Homo sapiens: one gene and its partners. The gene in region 1 interacts genetically with each later gene. Each region holds a gene or a part of one and is shown in the gene's direction. Other genes may lie near its edges. The genes, in order: HRK, BMF, BNIP3L, BOK, BNIP3 and BCL2L12.

Region 1 (3,500 bases):
AGGCTGCGGGCGGGGCGGGCAGATTGCGCCGCTCTGCGCCGGAGCGCAGGGGAGGAGTTGGGTAACTGGGGCCTGCGCTGCAGGGGAGGGCGGCGGCCAGGAGTTTCGCTGTTTTGAGTCGGTGTTGGGGGGCAGCAGCAGGTTATTGTCTCTGTGGAGTTTATTTCCCCCGCCCCGCCCTCGCCTTCTACCCCAGAGTTACTTCCGTGCTGCGCCCTGACTCGGAGACACCCTCTTCCCACACCTCTGGGTTCTTCTCCTACCTGCCTTGTCCCGCCCGGGCGTCCCCTGCAGCCACACCCTCCAGGGTTCTGCAGCCTCTGGCGCCCTGACCTCAGGATGCCCCGCTCGGCTTCCCAGCAGCACCGCCCCTCATACCCTCGGGACACCCGTAGAATTGCTCACCACCCGCCTTCCTGCGCTCCCAGGCCGGGTTCTCAGTGCTCGGGCTCCCTGCACTGGCCCTGATCAAGTTCTCTCCCTGCAGCCTACATCTGACCTCAGAATACCAGCCGCTCCGGCCTTTCTTGTGCTTTTGATTTAATTTGGGGAAACTCATTTTTTCCCAGCTCTGGTAAGTTAAGTAAAGGGGAAAGAAAAATCACCGGAGGAAGACAGTCTGTTGCGTTCTATGCTGGATATGGGGTGCTCTCCACCTTCCCTACCCTAAAAGAAAAAGGGGAATGTTCACAGCTGTACCTTAGGTGTTTGAGGGAGGCCTGTGCCAGCCATATAGGGTGGGAACTACCACTTTCAATTCCCATAGGTTTAAAGGGTGTGCTCCGCTATATGCAGAATCAATATTTTCAACATACAGGCCAGGCAGGTTGGCTCACGCCTGTAATTCCAGCACTTTGGGAGGCCAAGGCAGGTGGATCACCTGAGGTCAGGAGTTTGAGACCAGCATGGCCAACATGGTGAAACCCCATCTCTACTAAAAATACAAAAATTAGCTGAGCGTGGTGGTGCACACCTGTAATCCCAGCTACTCGGGAGGCTGAGGCAGGAGAATCGCTTGAACCTGGGAGGCGGAGGTTACAGTCAGCCAAGAAGAGCTGAGATCACACCACTGCACTCCAGCCTGGGCGACAGAGCGAGACTCCATCTCAATAATAATTTAAAACATATATGTGTATATACACATACATATATCCAGCATACTTGTTTTGAGTCTCTACTGCGAACCAGCAATACTTTTCTCAGAAGTCATCCTTTAAAAAAATAACAAACAGAAACAAAAACCCAAGACTAAGTTTTCCCATATGTAAAATGGGGGCAAAAAATGGGGGCCCACCAGCCAGACTTAGTGCATAGGCACGTTATTAAGGGGGTTAAATGAATTCATACACGGAAAGCTCTAGAACAGTGGATATACATGTGAGCCATCATGATTATTATTGTGCATTTACTATCATTCTTTCCCAAGGTAGTCAACATTTTACCATTATTATTGCTGGCCATTCCACACCACTCCTACCTGCCCTCCCGGGAAGTCAGTGCCAGAAGGGTCAGGAGAGAATAATGGTTAAGAGACTCTTAAGTGTCCAGCCATTTGCTGACAGCGTGACCTTGAGAAAGAACCATTACCTCTGCACCTTTATCTGTAAACTGGAGCTGTATCCTTCCAGGGTTATTGGGAGAATGATAAGAGAACATTCATTTAAAGTGTCCAGTGCAGGCCGGGCCAGTGGTTCAGTCCTGTAATCCCAGTTCTTTGGGAGGCCAAGGTGGGCGGATCACTTGAGCCCAGGAGTTCAAGACCAGCCTGGGCAACATGGTGAAACCTTGTCTGTACCAAAAAAAAAAAAAAAAAATTAGCTGGGCATGGTGGTGTGCACCTGTAGTCTCAGGTACTCAGGAGGCTGAGGTGGGAGGATCACTTGAGTCCCAGAGGCAGAGGTTGCAGTAAGCTGAGATCGCACTATTGCACTCCAGCCTAGGCGACAAAGTGAGACTCTTGTCTCAAAAAAGTCCAGTGCAGTGTCTGTCTCTTAACTTCACTCAACAGAGGATGTCATGAAATGGTCAGTGTCATTCCTTTTAATTCAAAGGGGAAGCCGAGGCAGAGAGCATCCACCTAAGTGATCCCCAGTGGAACTGCAGCTTCTGTCTTTGAGGGCACACAGCGCCCCCCACCCCATGACTTGCGGGGGAAGAGGAGATAGGGGCAGTAAGCAGACCGGGTTGGTGCACAGTGAATTCCTGTACAAGTGAAATTCCCTTTCTTCCAGAGCCCCAGGGGAGGCTCCTCTGAGGCTGGGGAGGCCTGGAGGAGGATGGGTATGATTTAACCAGTCAATACTCAAAGATACAGGAGAGAGGGAACAAAAGACGCTTTATGGTGAGTGCTGGCTGGCGGAGGCGTGGGAGGGAGGGAGGGAGAAGCGTGCCTGGGGAGGGGGCAGGGAGGGAGAGAGAATGGAGCCGAGGAATCTGCCTGGGAGTCGGGGCCAGGGCTGGGTAGAATCCTGCCTTGGGAGCAGGGGAAGGGGAGAGAGGGGGACTCCGCAGGCCCATAAGGCGACGTGGTCAGTGGCAAGGAAGATAATGGGCCAGCGGGAGCCTGCTTTAATGAATTAATGACAGCCTGGCCCACCAGCCAGACATGCTAACTGGTTCTTGGCAGGTACTTTGGGGATTAAGTGGTTAAACCTGGAGGCGCATCCCGCAGGCCTCCCTCCCAGCTCGCAGCACCCCTGCCAGAATTACTTTTAGAGCTTGAAAGCTTGGCCTTCTGTTTGGCGAGGGAGCCCGAGGAGGACAGCTGTTGGGGAGGAACCCCCCGGGAAGGGGCCAGATGTGCAGAACCAGGCAGCCTTCCTGCCACATGGTCTCTGTCTGGAGTCATCCGCTCGCATAGTGAGAGGCCAGAGTACAAGTGACTGAGCTGTGGATGGAAAAGAGCCACACCCGGGGATAATTAAATATACCCCCAGATGTGGGCTGGCTGGATTTGGCAATCATAACTCTAGAGTTTTTGAAAAGTCAGCCTTTTAGACAGGCAGATAACGAGAGGTGGGGAGGGGGCTTCCGTTTCTTGGTAGTCCTCACTAGTGTCCCTGTGATAGGATTTCACGGGAATAGAAAGCTAACCCACAGTGTCCCTAGTCCCTGGCAACTTGCTTGTCTCATAGTAGGTGTACAATAACTATGTGCTGTGTTAAATGAATCAGAAACTATGCAACATCAGCCGGGTATGCTGGCTCACACCTGTAATCCCAGCATTTTGAGAGGCTGAGGCGGGTGGATCACTTGAGGTCAGGAGTTCGAGACCTGCCTGGCCAATGTGGTGAAACCCCATCTCCACTAAAAATACAAAAATTAGCCAGGCATGATGGTGTGTGCCTGTAGTCCCAGCTACTTGGGAGGCTGAGGCAGGAGAATTGCATGAACCCAGGAGGCGGAGGTTGCAGTGAGCCGAGATCGCGCCACTGTACTCTAGCCTGGGCGACAGAATGAGTGAGACTCTGTTACAAAAAAATAAAAAATAAAAAAAGAAA
Region 2 (2,245 bases), on another chromosome or scaffold:
ATTTAGATCTTGGTGCTGGGGCAAGGCCATCAGCTTCAGAGACCTTGCCAGGCCCAGGCTGGGTGCCCTGTGGCCTGAGAACTGAGCCCAGACTTTGACAAACCCACCTCAACATCAAGCCTGGGGCAGGTGGAAGGTGGTCTGACTGCACTGTCTCCATCTTATGCAAAGCCAGGAACTCACTCACTGTCTTAAGTGAGCCAGGGCAAAATTTACACCCCTCACGTTTCCCTCTCCCTTCTTCCCCACCAACAAAACCCAGGAGGTAGCTGGCAGAGTAGCTGTCAGGAAGGAGAAAGGTTCTTTCTGGCTGGTTGTTTTTAATTGGCTTAGTGATCTAAACTGGCCCCTTCCTCCTCTGCCTGGTGAGTTGGCCTAAACATTCCTCAAGTCTAGCCTCAGGAGACCTGCCCCTCCCCCCCGACCTCCACCCCCTCAGACTCCATCCCCCACCCCCAGGAGCCTGGCTGTCTCTAGCGAGGGGTGGAGAATCAGATTTAGAGGGAGGGAGAGTCTGACCTGGATCCTGACCTGTAACCAGCTGAAGACGGTGGAGGCTTTGTGGCTTGCTGAGGGTGGGGGTTGGGAGAGGGACTGGAAACCTTCCTCCTCGGGAAAGAAATGCCTGGGAGGAAGGGAAGCCTGATATTCAGGGTCAAAACAGCCCTTCTAATTCACAACCCCAAAGCAGGGGTTTCTAGAAGTTGGTCAACAGATCTGGTGAGGGAAGTCCCCAGGCCAGACGCTGGACTCCTGCAATGAGGGTGGAGGACTCAGCCTGGCCTCTGCCTGGCCTGTTTCAAAGTCTGGGCCACTGGCAGCCTTCTCTTGCTCAATCCGAGGTGGAAAAAGATCACCTCCCAGTGACCTCCCTCAGCCCCCAGGGGAGTAGGTCTGTGTCCAAAGCTATGTGGCAGGCTTGTTTGAAGGACCCAGAGGGGCCCAGCTGACCTGTCTCACTGCTCCTGGCAGCCCAGCCCCATCGGCAGGTGGCCCCTGCCTGGGGGTTATTCGGGATGGTTCAGCCAGGGCCTCCCAGGAAGAGTGCTGTGGAGCCACGGTGACTGTCCTGGACAGCAAGGAGCATGCTACCCCAGTGAGCACTTCTTTTTGAGGGACTTGATGGGGAGGTGGGGTAGGCAGAAGGGACGTGGCAGAAGCGGGAAGACTTTGGTCACCATGGCTCTGCAGGCCTTCTGCAAATCAGTGCTGGCCTGGGCTGGAAACAGCTCTGTGTGTGAAGGTGAGGACTCTTGGAAGCAGGCCATCCTGGCCAGACACCCTAGCAGGAAGGGGCTCACCTGTCACCCTTAGGCAGCCTGAGGGCTGGTGGGGACTTTTGAGTCTTGAGGGGATAGCGGAAAAAGCTGAGCTCATAGGTGCCCAGCCAGCCTCCCAGCTAAAGGTGCTCAGAGCCCCACTGCCCCCTCTCTCTGTGCAGGTGGCCAGTGCCCCTCCCTGCTCTGGGAGCATTGCTAGCCTTCTACCCCATCCCTGGATCCACAGGGGCTATCGAGGAGACCCAGTGAGAATGTAGCATTTTGTTCATCCCCAGGGTAGCTGCCCTGGGGTCTGGGCACTCTGCCTCTGGGAGAGAGGAAGAAGAAAGGGGCCCCATTTTTTAAAAAACTGTACAGAGCCTTTGGCTTTATGTGTTTATGTTCTTCACATGCATATGTGTGTATGTGTGTATATCTTTCCCCCCATCAATTGGTACAATTTTTAATAAAATCATTTAAAGCAAATCTGGTCTTTTATTTTTCAAGGTGTGGTAAAAATGCAAGGAGATCAGTTAGGAAATTAAAGCCTTCTAGCTTTCTCAGCTGCCAGCTTGAGTGACCTGAAGGCGCTCAGCTTTCGCCGTGATTTCCTTTCCCCTCTTGGAGTTGAGAAGAGTGATTCCGACCACCACGCGATAGGCAGCACAGCAGAGGCCCTGTGAGGGGGAAAGATGCAGGTTTTGGACCCGGTTCCCTCCTCCTCCAGCTGAATGATCTTGGGCAAGTTATGTCACCTCTCTGAGCCTTCAGTTCTTCCACGTGTGAAATACGACTGTGCCGGCCTTGCAGGATTAAAGGGAATGTGTCAAAAGGGCCTGTCTGCCACTGGGACCCAGTGAGGGAAAGGACCCCGGCAGCCCCTCCCGCACACACTACCCCACCCCTCCTTTCTATCAGGGTAGCCCCTCAGGAGGCAAGCTAGTTGTAGGGGGACTTCCTGGCTTGCATTTCTTTGTGGATTAACA
Region 3 (3,500 bases), on another chromosome or scaffold:
AAACACAGAGCGCCTCTCCTCCTCCAAAGGAACGCAGTTCCTCACCAGCAACGGAACAAAGCTGGATGGAGAATGATTTTGACGAGCTGAGAGAAGAAGGCTTCAGACGATCAAATTAGAGTGAGCTACGGGAGGACATTCAAACCAAAGGCAAAGAAGTTGAAAACTGAAAAAAATTTAGAAGAATGTATAACTAGAATAACCAATACAGAGAAGTGCTTAAAGGAGCTGATGGAGCTGAAAACCAAGGCTCGAGAACTACGTGAAGAATGCAGAAGCCTCAGGAGCCGATGCGATCAACTGGAAGAAAGGGTATCAGCAATGGAAGATGAAATGAATGAAATGAAGCAAGAAGGGAAGTTTAGAGAAAAAAGAATAAAAAGAAATGAGCAAAGCCTCCAAGAAATATGGGACTATGTGAAAAGACCAAATCTACGTCTGATTGGTGTACCTGAAAGTGATGCGGAGAATGGAACCAAGTTGGAAAACACTCTGCAGGATATTATCCAGGAGAACTTCCCCAATCTAGCAAGGCAGGCCAACGTTCAGATTCAGGAAATACAGAGAACGCCACAAAGATACTCCTCGAGAAGAGCAACTCCAAGACACATAATTGTCAGATTCACCAAAGTTGAAATGAAGGAAAAAATGTTAAGGGCAGCCAGAGAGAAAGGTCGGGTTACCCTCAAAGGGAAGCCCATCAGACTAACAGCGGATCTCTTGGCAGAAACCCTACAAGCCAGAAGAGAGTGGGGGCCAATATTCAACATTCTTAAAGAAAAGAATTTTCAACCCAGAATTTCATATCCAGCCAAACTAAGCTTCATAAGTGAAGGAGAAATAAAATACTTTACAGACAAGCAAATGCTGACCGATTTTGTCACCACCAGGCCTGCCCTAAAAGAGCTCCTGAAGGAAGCGCTAAACATGGAAAGGAACAACCGGTACCAGCTGCTGCAAAATCATGCCAAAATGTAAAGACCATCGAGACTAGGAAGAAACTGCATCAACTAACGAGCAAAATCACCAGCTAACATCATAATGACAGGATCAAATTCACACATAACAATATTAACTTTAAATGTAAGTGGACTAAATTCTGCAATTAAAAGACACAGACTGGCAAATTGGATAAAGAGTCAAGACCCATCAGTGTGCTGTATTCAGGAAACCCATCTCACGTGCAGAGACACACATAGGCTCAAAATAAAAGGATGGAGGAAGATCTACCAAGCAAATGGAAAACAAAAAAAGGCAGGGGTTGCAATCCTAGTCTCTGATAAAACAGACTTTAAACCAACAAAGATCAAAAGAGACAAAGAAGGCCATTACATAATGGTAAAGGGATCAATTCAACAAGAGGAGCTAACTATCCTAAATATATATGCACCCAATACAGGAGCACCCAGATTCATAAAGCAAGTCCTGAGTGACCTACAAAGAGACTTAGACTCCCACACATTAATAATGGGAGACTTTAACACCCCACTGTCAATATTAGACAGATCAACAAGACAGAAAGTCAACAAGGATACCCAGGAATTGAACTCAGCTCTGCACCAAGCAGACCTAATAGACGTCTACAGAACTCTCCACCCCAAATCAACAGAATATACATTTTTTTCAGCACCACACCACACCTATTCCAAAATTGACCACATAGTTGGAAGTAAAGCTCTCCTCAGCAAATGTAAAAGAACAGAAATTATAACAAACTATCTCTCAGACCACAGTGCAATCAAACTAGAACTCAGGATTAAGAATCTCACTCAAAGCCGCTCAACTACATGGAAACTGAACAACCTGCTCCTGAATGACTACTGGGTACATAACGAAATGAAGGCAGAAATAAAGATGTTCTTTGAAACCAACGAGAACAAAGACACAACATACCAGAATCTCTGGGACGCATTCAAAGCAGTGTGTAGAGGGAAATTTATAGCACTAAATGCCCACAAGAGAAAGCAGGAAAGATCCAAAATTGACACCCTAGCATCACAATTAAAAGAACTAGAAAAGCAAGAGCAAACACATTCAAAAGCTAGCAGAAGGCAAGAAATAACTAAAATCAGAGCAGAACTGAAGGAAATAGAGACACAAAAAACCCTTCAAAAAATCAATGAATCCAGGAGCTGGTTTTTTGAAAGGATCAACAAAATTGATAGACCGCTAGCAAGACTAATAAAGAAAAAAAGAGAGAAGAATCAAATAGACAAAAAATGATACTACAAACACCTCTACGCAAATAAACTAGAAAATCTGGAAGAAATGGATACATTCCTCGACACATACACTCTCCCAAGACTAAACCAGGAAGAAGTTGAATCTCTGAATAGACCAATAACAGGAGCTGAAATTGTGGCAATAATCAATAGTTTACCAACCAAGAAGAGTCCAGGACCAGATGGATTCACAGCCGAATTCTACCAGAGGTACAAGGAGGAACTGGTACCATTCCTTCTGAAACTATTCCAATCAATAGAAAAAGAGGGAATCCTCTGTAACTCATTTTATGAGGCCAGCATCATTCTGATACCAAAGCCGGGCAGAGACACAACCAAAAAAGAGAATTTTAGACCAATATCCTTGATGAACATTGATGCAAAAATCCTCAATAAAATACTGGCAAACCGAATCCAGCAGCACATCAAAAAGCTTATCCACCATGATCAAGTGGGCTTCATCCCTGGGATGCAAGGCTGGTTCAATATACACAAATCAATAAATGTAATCCAGCATATAAACAGAGCCAAAGACAAAAACCACATGATTATCTCAATAGATGCAGAAAAAGCCTTTGACAAAATTCAACAACCCTTCATGCTAAAAACTCTCAATAAATTAGGTATTGATGGGACGTATTTCAAAATAATAAGAGCTATCTATGACAAACCCACAGCCAATATCATACTGAATGGGCAAAAACTGGAAGCATTCCCTTTGAAAACTGGCACAAGACAGGGATGCCCTCTCTCACCGCTCCTATTCAACATAGTGTTGGAAGTTCTGGCCAGGGCAATCAGGCAGGAGAAGGAAATAAAGGGTATTCAATTAGGAAAAGAGGAAGTCAAATTGTCCCTGTTTGCAGATGACATGATTGTTTATCTAGAAAACCCCATTTTCTCAGCCCAAAATCTCCTTAAGCTGATAAGCAACTTCAGCAAAGTCTCAGGATACAAAATCAATGTACAAAAATCACAAGCATTCCTATACACCAACAAGAGACAAACAGCCAAATCATGAGTGAACTCCCATTCACAATTGCTTCAAAGAGAATAAAATACCTAGGAATCCAACTTACAAGGGATGTGAAGGACCTCTTCAAGGAGAACTACAAACCACTGCTCAAGGAAATAAAAGAGGATACAAAGAAATGGAAGAACATTCCATGCTCATGGGTAGGAAGAATCAATATCGTGAAAATGGCCATACTGCCCAAGATAATTTACAGATTCAGTGCCATCCCCATCAAGCTACCAATGACTTTCTTCACAGAATTG
Region 4 (4,296 bases), on another chromosome or scaffold:
TTGTTCTTTTCTAGCTTCTTGAGTGGAAGCTTAGAGCAGTAATTTTATTTTTCTTTTTCCTTTTTTTTTTTTTTTTTTGAGATGGAATCACACTCTGTTGTCCAGGCTGGAGTGCAGGTGGGATGATCTCTGCTCACTGCAACCTTCGCCTCCCAGGTTCAAGCAATTCTCCTGCCTCAGCCTCCTTAGTAGCTGGGATTACAGACACCTGCCACCACACCCAACTCATTTTTTGTATCTCTAGTAGAGACGGGGTTTTCACCATTTTGACCCGGCTGGTCTCAAACTCCTGAGCTCAGGTGATCTGCCCACCTAGGCCTCCCAAAATGCTGGGATTACAGGTCTGAGTCATTTCACCTGGCCTAATTTTCAATCCTTCTTCTAAAGCTATCAAATTTCCTCTAAGCAGTGTTTTAGTTGCACTGTACAGCATTTGATATGTCTTATTTTTCACTGTTCTTGTCAACATATTTTAATCTTCCACTGTGATTATTGACCCATTGATTATTTAGAAGTGTGACATGTAATTTCCAAGCATTTGCAGATTTTCCAGTAATTTTTCTGTTATTGACTTTTAATTCAGAGAGGACACACTGTAAGATTTCAATCCGTTGAGATTTGCTGAGACTTGTATAAGGTCCATGATATGGTCTATTTCGATAAACATCCTATGTGCACATGGGAAGAATAAGTATTTTATAGTGTTGTACACACGTGAATTAGGCCAAGTTGGTTAATCCTATTGTTCAAACTGTGTGAGGTTGATTCAAGGATAAAGAAATAAACCAGTGGGATAGAGTTCCGAGACACACACACACACACACACACACTCTTCAGCTGATTTATGTTGAGATGTTGGGGACTCCTCCAATTCGGTGGAAAAAAAATGATGCTTTTCAATAAATGATGCCAGGTCAATTGGATATCTACACGAAAAAAAATGAGCTCTAGCCCCGTACCACACCATTCACAATAATTAATATGTAATCAATCATAGATCTAAATATGAGCCCTAAAACAAGCTTCTAAAAGGAAATACAGGAGGATATCCCAATAAAAAGGTACTAACCATAAAGAAAATATTGATAAATTGGACATCACTAAGAGTAACTCCTGTTCATCCAAAGCAAAAGTAAACCACAAAATAGAGGAAGATATTTGCAATAACTTCAATAAATGCGAATCCAATAATCCATCTACAATACAAAGGGCATGCGTCCGGACCAAGAACACGTCTCCAGACTCTGGAAAGAACCTCTACGAACGAAGAAGACAACCCAATTTTCAAATGGACCCCGGGGAACACCCAGGCGGCTGGGGCTGGCTCTAGGTCCCCACTGCTCTGCCTTGCGGGGGCCGCTCCGGCCTGGTCGCCTTCTCCGGGCGCATCCAGGGAACTCGCTCGGTCCTCCTTAAGCGGGGAAGCTCGGAAAGCGTCTCCCCGACTCCGCCCCCAGGGTTGCCTTTCCCTTAGAAGGCCAAGCCCCAAGCCCAGCCTCTCGCCAGCTGGGAGTCGCGCGCTGCCCACCTCGCTGCCCAGGCCCCCGACGCCGCGGCAGGAGCCCCCCAAGAGCGCGGGAAGCCCCGTGGACCTGGCGCTCCCGGCTCGGGCGTGGACGGGGCGGGCGCCGGGGCGGGGCGCGCGTCCTCGCGGGTCTGAATGGAAGGGTCGAGGTCGTCGTCGGCGGCGAGCAGATCCTGAAGCCAGAACTCCACCCCGGCGCCCGCGCCATGCGGCGGGAGAGGTGAGCGCGGCGGGCGTGGCGTCCGTGCCGGGGTGCCCGGGGTGCCACGGGAACGGCGAGGCCGGGGACACGCGCGCAGGACGCCAGCGGCGGAGGTGGGCGGCCCCGGGCCGGGGCGGGGAGGGCCGGGTCCTGGCAGTCGCCGTGGGGGACGCGCTGGGCTGTGCCCTCCGCCCCCGCCGCCCACGCACTCGTCTTCGAGGGCGGGCCCGGCGGCCCCGGAGCAAACCGCCGTCTCCCCGCGGCCCCACCGGTCCCTGGCAGCCTCGGGGAATGTCTGTAGCTGAATTCGGGCTCTGAAAGAAGGTGGCGCTGGGTTTTTAAAGATTTGGGGCACAAAAAACGAGAGCGGACCCGGCGCCGGCTACGGCCCTTCCCGAGGGCCACGCCCAGCCCGGCGCCCCGCGCGCCCCGTTCCCCGCGCCGCCTCCCTCCACCCGGCTGAGCGCTTGTGCCCGCAGGTGCGGCGCCCCCCACCCGCGTCGCCGCCATGGAGGTGCTGCGGCGCTCCTCGGTCTTCGCCGCCGAGATCATGGACGCCTTTGACCGCTCGCCCACAGACAAGGAGCTGGTGGCCCAGGCCAAGGCGCTGGGCCGGGAGTACGTGCACGCGCGGCTGCTGCGCGCCGGCCTCTCCTGGAGCGCGCCCGAGCGTGCCGCGCCGGTCCCGGGACGCCTGGCTGAGGTGTGCGCGGTGCTGCTGCGCCTGGGTGAGTGCGCCCTGGTGGGATCCCCAGCTGCGCCTCCTCCCCTGCTGGGCCGCAGCCTCCCTCCGAGGCCGAGATGGGGGTCCGGCCCAGGGGCGCCCACCCCCTGCCTGGGACGGCCAGGCGCTCGGGACAGGGCCACCCAGGCGGGTGCTCCCGGATCTGCCCTCTCAGGCCTCCCACGCCACAGGCCCCCCCATCAGCTGCCTGCTCAGCCCAGATTTCAGTCATGCTGGCCATAAACAATAGAAAGCTCCAGAAAGAATAATCTATTAGTGGGTGGCTAAGCTTCCACAGTGACCCTTGTTCTCAGCTGGGCACAGAAACCCTTTGTAGGAGCACGTGTCCCGATGTTTATTTTGGAAAACAGATTCTTGCTGTTACTGGCCGAGATCCCGCCCGCTGCCCTCTGGATTCCGAGGCCTCCGAGGCCCCCCCATTGGAAACTGCGCCCACCGGGCTGGGTAGCCAAAACCTCAGTATTCGTTGGTGCTGTGAGGACATCTGGGGGTGCTCGGTTCTGGGGTCACACACGGTCCACTGGCTGCCCCCACCGTCTCCAAGGTCTGGACCCAAGAGGGAGGGACCAGCCCCACTGTGACTGTCCAGTCCCCTCACCACAGCTGGGCTGTGGCCGTCACCTGGGAATGTTTATGTGATGCCCGAAGAGGGCACATGGGGCGCCTGTGGCTGAGCCCGGGAAGGGGAGGTGACAGCATAGGTGAAACTGAATCGGTGGCTCTCCAGGCAGGGGGTTGGAGTCGGAGGGCACGACCCCGTGAGGGGACACGCTGCCTCCTCTCAGGCTGGCGCTGGCATGGGCTCTAGGTGGCCCCTGCCCTTACGTGGTGGGCTGGGCCCAGAGAGCAAAGCTGTGTAGACCTGGCCTGCCCAGGAGTGTGTGTGGGGTGCAGACAGAATCCATGGGGACCAGCACAGAGCCTCCAGGAGGAGGTGGAGTCCCATCTGAGAAGTTCAGAAGGAGGGAGAGGTCTCTGGGTGGGAGCTAGGGGGTTGGTGGGGCTCCATGAGATCCGCCGCCTGCTGCTGCCTCTAGTCGGGCTCTGAGAATGACCCTAGGGGATCCTTTTAGTGGCCTTCTGAAAAGATGATGCCAGACCCCTGGAATGGCTGGGAAGAAGTCCCAGATGTCTAGGGGGACCCCAGAGGGACACAGCTCAGACCTGCATCTGCCCTCACGGCTGCTCAGGGTCAGTCCCTTGAGGCCAGCGCTGTCTCCCTGCCCTTGGGCAGTGCAGACAGGAAGAAGCCCGGGTTGTGTCCCCACCTTCAGTCTGGGGCCAGCCTGCAGCAGCCCCGGAGATCTGTGTTTGGGAGCTGCCGGGTCAGTCCTGGGAATTTCCATGTCGTCCCCCGCCCCCAGCCAGCCTCTCATGGGCTCTGCTCTGCTTCCAGATCTTAATTAATGAGATACAGAGCAGCCTTTATCAGCTGGGATGGTCCGGTCAGCAGCATTACCCTGTTTGCTTTGGCTGGAGAACTGGCCGGGCTGCGGACTCCCAATCCCAGGGCCCTGTGGCATTCTCGGCACCATCTGCCCCGTGCCTGTGCGCTGCTGCTGCCAAGGGTGCCACAGGCAGCACTGGGGCGGTGGGCCTGTAGGGGCCATCCTCGGCTGCCAGGGGCAGGGCTGATGCAGTGCCACCTCCAAGCACATCCCCTTGGCAGCAAGAGCCCAGGTGGGAGCGTGGCAGTGAGGGTGGCCCAGGACAGCGGCCCAGCCAGCCCAGGTGGGAGCGTGGCAGTGCGGGTGGCCCAGGACAGGGGCCCAGCCAGCCCAGGTGGGAGCGTGGCAGTGCGGGTGGCCCAGGACAGCGGCCCAG
Region 5 (3,500 bases), on another chromosome or scaffold:
ATAAGTTTCCCTGTCTTTTGTGGCCTGCACTTTCCTCCCACTGCACTCCATCCTCCATACGCTACCAGAGGAAGCTCCTACCAGATTTGCTTTAAATAAATAAACCTATGACACAAAGTAGAGAGATTATCTGGGGCCCAGAAATAGACGTGTGCCTATATGCACGCTTGATTTCTGACACAGGAAGCAGCCAGCGCAGAGTGAGGCGGGAGCTGTCTGCAGTAAATGGGGCATCCGTCTCACATCAATGGGAAAATTAATCCATGTAGATTTTGGATCTAAATGTGACTGTCATAACAGTAGAGCTGTGTGAAAATAATAGAATAGAATATCTCAGCTCAGGAAGGGATTGCTGCATTTGACTGAATTAAAATCAAGAACTTCTGTACATCAGAAGACATCAGAAGTGAAAAGAACAAGCTACCGAGGGAAAGTTACTTGCAACATATTTAAATGCAGAAAAACATATATCTAGAATACAGAATTATCCCAGAATTGCACTTTTAGCAGTAAGGGAACGGGAGCAGCGTTCCAGCCTCAGTTTCTATTTATAATGGTGACATGGAAAAAATACTGCTGGATGCCCACAAATAAGAGAAAGACAGATAATAGAAAAGAATAAGAGATTCGAAGAACCAGTTCAAAAAAGATGCTATCCAGATGGCTAGCAAACTTGTAAAACCGTCTTCAACCTCGTTAGAAATTATATAAATGCAAAGTAAGCCACACGATGCAAGTCATAGAGGCTGGGCATGGTGGCTCACGCCTGTAATCCCAGCACACTGGGAAGCTGAGGTGAGAGGACTGCTTGGGCCCAGAAGTTCGAGACTAGCCTGGGCAATATAGCGAGACCCCATCTCCTAAAAAAAATAGCCAGGAGTAGTGGTGCATGCCTGTAGTTCCAGTTATTCCGGAGGTGTCAGCTAGAGGATGGCCTGAACCCAGGAGTTTGAGATTATAGTGAGCCTTCATCGTGCCACTGCACCCCAGCCTGGGTGACAAAGCGAGACTCCGTCTCGAAAAGAAACAAAAAATAGAGCTTAAACCTTTTAAAGAAAACTTCAAATCCCTTAAGCTTATGTTGACATTAGTGTTGTTGTTGTTTTTTTTAAAGACCTCTTTTTCCAAATAATAGCCTTTTTCTTATAAAAGCTCACTGCAAGGAAGTATTCTAATTGGATTCTGTTGACTCAGCAGAGTTATTGGACATTGGCTTGGTATAAAGGGACTGCAAGAGCTGGACAGATACATGGTCTCAGCCCCAGGGGGCTTCCTTCCTGTACCCAGGGAGTGTGTGCGTGGACAGTCACTGCCATGAGAGTGGGCAGAGGGATGTCTTCAAGTCGGGGTTGAGGGATGGTTCCTGGTGTGGCACCATTGCTACCTCTTGGAAATGGAAGGGCAGGCTGGTTAGATATCAAGAGCAGATTCCAGAGTGGGTAGAGAATTCCATCTGCGCCCCTTTTTTTGTCCCCATCAGGCTCCTGGGTAGAACTGCACTTCAGCAATAATGGGAACGGGGGCAGCGTTCCAGCCTCGGTTTCTATTTATAATGGAGACATGGAAAAAATACTGCTGGACGCACAGCATGAGTCTGGACGGAGTAGCTCCAAGAGCTCTCACTGTGACAGGTAGGCGCGCATCAACAAGTGTATGTGTTACAGTGCCGATGTCTTCAGTGGGTGACAGTCACAGCTGGAAGTGCCCGTGTCACCTCTAGGACAGTGGGCTGCTGTTCGCCTCGGGCCGCGTTCTGGACTGGCTCCTGCTGCAGTCCGTCCTTATATAGGAGCCTCGCCCTCTTTGGGGATGCAGTGACCTGGGACTTAGTCTGTGGGGAGCCATGTTCAAGTCATCAGTAGGCAGCGGAACAGCCACAAACCCCACTCTGAGAAACGCACTCACGCGCCTCAGCGGGGCTGTGGTCGCAGGAGGAGCGGTCCCTGGTTAGCAGTACTTCTGAGTGACTCCAAGGTAGAGTGGCCGACAGTGGTCAAAGGTCGCGTGCCCTTGAGAGCTGTGCAACAGACCCAGACCGTGAAGGCGGCAGGTGACAAAGCCAGCTGCTTGCCAGTTGCCCCTGCGTCTTCTCTGGAAGACTGGCTAGCTCACTCCTGTCGTGCTCAGCCAAAAGGGCTGAGGAAGAGTTTGGCTCTGGCAGGTGCTGGGTGGAAGGGAAGACGCGTACGCTGACTGGCTAGAGCCCCTCATCACGGAGGCGGTTCACTGCCTTTGGGGTTTGAGCTTCTAATGATAGAATGTTCACATGATGTTCTGTTTTTCCCATTCTATTCACATCGCCAAGCCCACCTCGCTCGCAGACACCACAAGATACCAACAGAGCTTCTGAAACAGATACCCATAGCATTGGAGAGAAAAACAGCTCACAGGTAAGCTGGAAGGAGAATGTGCAGTTGTAAAAGTATTTGTGATCTGTTTGTACAGGAAACGGTTTTAAATGTAATTGAGCACCTCAGAGAAAAGTCGGGCTTTAAGGGTGTTTCCTGCTTTAAAAAAAACAAAAAAGCGAAACAAAAAAACCAAGAAACTGTGGGTGGGAACATCCACAAGCACATGGGCTGGACACTCAGCTGAGCGGGGGAGGCGCCGAGTGGGACAGGCAGCGGGGGCCTCCTGTCCCTCCCTGCCTGCCATCAGGGATACACCGGAAAGGAGGAAGGGCTCCCTGGTGGCTGCAGCCTAGAGAGGAGGGAGGGACCATTGGAAGGGGTGGCAGTGAGCCAGCTACTGGCTGGTCTTTCCTCGTGGTTGCTGGTTGGACAGTGAGTGGGTTTTAATATTTGCATGCTGTGTGGGACTCAGGAGTTACCCACGGGGCCATCTAAGGCCATGTGGCCACTGTGGCTGTGACTCTGAGGTGTCTTCCTCATTAGACACTCACTACCTGCCGGAAATTACACCCTGTGCCTTTCCTAGCATTAGTCCTGAGCTAACTGGTGCCGGAGCAGTGTAGCATTAGCGGCTGATCAGCCTGATAATTTAGTGTAAGATCACTTTTTCTTCTTTTTTAAAAAAGTTTTTTTTGTAGAGACGGGGTCTCCCTGTGTTGCCCAGGGTGGTCTTGAACTCCAGGGCTCAAGTGATCCTCCCAAAATACTGGGACTATAGGTGTGAGATACTGTGTCCAGCCTAAGATGACTTTTCTGTTAACAGCTATTGAATGGGCTTTACAGAGCGGCCTTCAGCATTGTTGTGAAAGCGGAGTGAGTCTTAGAGGAAAAAGTGTACCTGGGGTTATTGCCTTGGTGTACTATCGTTCTCCCTTCCTACTCCGGCACAGATAGGGTTCGAGGCAGTGATCAGTACTGTCTTGCTCAGTTATATCTGGCAGTGCCTTACCTTGCTGCAGATGAGATGCGCGATGTGTTTTCTTGGGTGTTCGTTGCTGGTGAGAACTTTGACGACGGACTGTGTTCTGTATTTTGGAAGCTCTGTGAGGAAGCATGGCCTTCCAGGCAGGGTTAGTAGCTGACCCTTCC
Region 6 (2,742 bases), on another chromosome or scaffold:
CCCAGGTGAGGCACAGAGGAGCCCCAGAGAAGGATGGCGGTGGGAGGATAGTCAGGGTTCTGCCCCCAGCCAAATTCTCTTCTGCCTCCAGAATTACAGGGTCCCCCATCGACAGAGAAGGAAGCCATACTGCGGAGGCTGGTGGCCCTGCTGGAGGAGGAGGCAGAAGTCATTAACCAGAAGGTGATGGGCATCTGTCCCACTCCTTGGCAAGGACAGGAGTTGCGGAATGGTGGGGCACTGGGATCAGAAGCTGGATCTGTATTTTCTTTGGATGGTCAGGTGGAAAGAGGCTGGGACAAGGTTTCAATGAAGGGTTGAGGCCGGGTGTGGTGGCTCACGCCTGTAATCCCAGCACTTTGGGAGGCCGAGTTGGGTGGATGACTTGAGGTCAGGAGTTCGAGACCAGCCTGGCCAACATGGTGAAACCCCATCTCTACTAAAAATACAAAAATCGGACAGGTGTGGTGGTGCGCTTCTGTAATCCCAGCTACTCAGAAGGCTGAGGCAGGAGAATCGCTTGAGCCCAGGAGGTGGAGGTTGCAGTGAGCCAAGATTGCGCCACTGCACTCCAGCCTGGGTGACAGAGTGAGACTCTGTCTTTAAAAAAAAAAAAAAAAAAGAATAGTTGAATGACAGGGGTATGGTTAGGGTAGTACTGTACCGTAAATTAGTTGTTTTAATTGATTGTTTAGAGGGGCATGGCCTAAATGCAGAGGGTGTGGCCATCAGAAACATTATCCACAAGAGACTGGCCAAGCTGGGGAAGTAAGTGAATGAATGTGGGGGTGGGGGGAGTGGCTAAAATCTTACTGAGCATAGAAGGGACCTGGCTTAGAATGTAGGGGAAAATGTACTACCAGAGGAGGTGTGGCTTGTGGCTGTGTCCTGGAATCTGATTGGCTTCGGAGCTTGGACAAGGTACATCGTCCTTTAATATTAATTGAATGGTAGAGGGCAAGATTGTTGTAGACACTAGGTTGGCCCCTGGGAAAGGTCACCAGGGGCATGGCTAGATTAACTCAGTTACAGTAGAGATTGGCCCTGATTGGCTGTTGAGGCAAGGGCCTGGCATGGCTTAGGGACTCACGTTCCAGGCCACTATCCCGGGGGTAGTTTGGCAGAGACCCTGGAGTCTGGCTTGATTGGCTAATATGGATGAGGGGTGGCCTAGAACCTTAGCATCTAGAACGATCCTGAACCGGGAAGCCACGCCTCCCGGCCCTCTATTGGCTGGCCCCGGGGGCGCTGCTGACGCGGACCCTGCCTCTTCCACCCTACAGCTGGCCTCGGACCCCGCCCTGCGCAGCAAGCTGGTCCGCCTGTCCTCCGACTCTTTCGCCCGCCTGGTGGAGCTGTTCTGTAGCCGGGATGACAGCTCTCGCCCAAGCCGAGCATGCCCCGGGCCCCCGCCTCCTTCCCCGGAGCCCCTGGCCCGCCTGGCCCTAGCCATGGAGCTGAGCCGGCGCGTGGCCGGGCTGGGGGGCACCCTGGCCGGACTCAGCGTGGAGCACGTGCACAGCTTCACGCCCTGGATCCAGGCCCACGGGGGCTGGGTGAGCCGCTGAAGCCTCTCTCTCCGGGCCTCACTTTACCTAACTGTCATGTGATAGAGGAGGGGCGGGGACTTCTTAGGTTCCTCTCAGACCTCAGGTATTCTCCCAGCTCCACTGCGTTCGTTCTGTTGAGCCCTTGCTGTATGCCAGGACTGCAGCGATGAGTGCAGACACTATGCCTGGCGTCAACGACTGGGTACGCTAATACTGTGAGCGTGAAACCAGTGACTGAGGTTACTCAGGGAGAGGCCGGACGGGGTAGCTCATGCCTGTAATCCCAGCACTTTTGGAGGCCAAGGCAGGAGAATTATTTGAGGCCAGGAGTTCAAGACCAGCCTGGACAACATAGTAAGACCCCATCTCTACAAAAATTGAAAATAACTAGCCAGGGTCGGGTGCGGTGGCTCACACCTGTAATCCCAGCACTTTGGGAGGCCGAGGCAGGTGGATCACCTGAGGTCAGGAGTTTGAGACCAGCTGGCCAACGTGGTGAAACCCTGTGTCTACTAAAAAAAATACATAAATTAGCCGGGCGCGGTGGCAGGTGCCTGTAATCCCAGCTACCGAGGAGACTGAGGCATGAGAATCGCTTGAACCTGGGAGGCAGAGATTGCAGTGAGCTGAGATCATGCCACTGCACTCCAGCCTGGGCGACAGAGTGAGACTGTGTCTCAACAAAATAATATAATAAAAACCTGGTGCGGTGGCTCACACCTGTAATCCCAGCACTTTGGGAGACTGAGGTGGGTGGATCACTTGAGGTCAGGAGTTTGAGACCAGCCTGACCATGGTGACATTCAGTCTCTACTAAAAATACAAAATTAGCCCGGCATGCCTGTAATCCCAGCTAGGGAGGCTGAGGCAAGAGAATTGCTTGAACCTGGGAGGCAGAGGTTGTAGTGAGCCGAGATTGCACCACTGCACTCCAGCCTGGGCAACAAGAGCGGGGCTCTGTCTCAAAAAATAAATAAATAAAAATTTTTAAAATTAATAATAATTAGCAAAGCATGGTAGCTCACACGTTTACTCCCAGCTACTCAGGAGGCAGAGGAGCCGGGAGGATCACTTGAGCCCAGGAGTTCAAGGCTGTGGTGAGCTATGATTGCGCCACTGTACTCCAGTGTGGGTGACAGAGTGGGACCCTGTCTCAAAAAATAAAATAGTGAGAGTAGTAGTGCTACCTCAA

What was found.
Region 2: changes in HRK (region 1) and BMF together harm fitness more than expected from each alone (negative genetic interaction), as found in Homo sapiens cells (one large-scale study listed by BioGRID).
Region 3: changes in HRK (region 1) and BNIP3L together harm fitness more than expected from each alone (negative genetic interaction), as found in Homo sapiens cells (one large-scale study listed by BioGRID).
Region 4: changes in HRK (region 1) and BOK together harm fitness more than expected from each alone (negative genetic interaction), as found in Homo sapiens cells (one large-scale study listed by BioGRID).
Region 5: changes in HRK (region 1) and BNIP3 together harm fitness more than expected from each alone (negative genetic interaction), as found in Homo sapiens cells (one large-scale study listed by BioGRID).
Region 6: changes in HRK (region 1) and BCL2L12 together harm fitness more than expected from each alone (negative genetic interaction), as found in Homo sapiens cells (one large-scale study listed by BioGRID).

The regions. Positions count from the first base shown.
Region 1 is NC_000012.12:116,875,532-116,879,031, reverse strand, and holds part of HRK (activator of apoptosis harakiri), read left to right. Parts: intron 1-487; exon of another isoform or gene 488-574; intron 575-2,231; exon of another isoform or gene 2,232-2,341; intron 2,342-3,500. UniProt on the Homo sapiens protein: Promotes apoptosis.
Region 2 is NC_000015.10:40,087,390-40,089,634, reverse strand, and holds the end of BMF (bcl-2-modifying factor), read left to right. Parts: 3' UTR 1-1,745; downstream 1,746-2,245. UniProt on the Homo sapiens protein: May play a role in apoptosis. Isoform 1 seems to be the main initiator.
Region 3 is NC_000008.11:26,396,554-26,400,053, forward strand, and holds part of BNIP3L (BCL2/adenovirus E1B 19 kDa protein-interacting protein 3-like), read left to right. Parts: intron 1-3,500.
Region 4 is NC_000002.12:241,557,249-241,561,544, forward strand, and holds the start of BOK (bcl-2-related ovarian killer protein), read left to right. Parts: upstream 1-1,496; 5' UTR 1,497-1,745; exon of another isoform or gene 1,746-1,895; intron 1,896-1,970; exon of another isoform or gene 1,971-2,206; 5' UTR 2,207-2,235; coding exon 2,236-2,455; intron 2,456-2,822; exon of another isoform or gene 2,823-3,016; intron 3,017-4,296.
Region 5 is NC_000010.11:131,971,924-131,975,423, reverse strand, and holds part of BNIP3 (BCL2/adenovirus E1B 19 kDa protein-interacting protein 3), read left to right. Parts: intron 1-1,480; coding exon 1,481-1,631; intron 1,632-2,305; coding exon 2,306-2,390; intron 2,391-3,500. UniProt on the Homo sapiens protein: Apoptosis-inducing protein that can overcome BCL2 suppression. May play a role in repartitioning calcium between the two major intracellular calcium stores in association with BCL2.
Region 6 is NC_000019.10:49,668,933-49,671,674, forward strand, and holds part of BCL2L12 (bcl-2-like protein 12), read left to right. Parts: coding exon 1-5; intron 6-91; coding exon 92-183; coding exon of another isoform or gene 184-232; intron 233-1,283; coding exon 1,284-1,556; intron 1,557-2,742.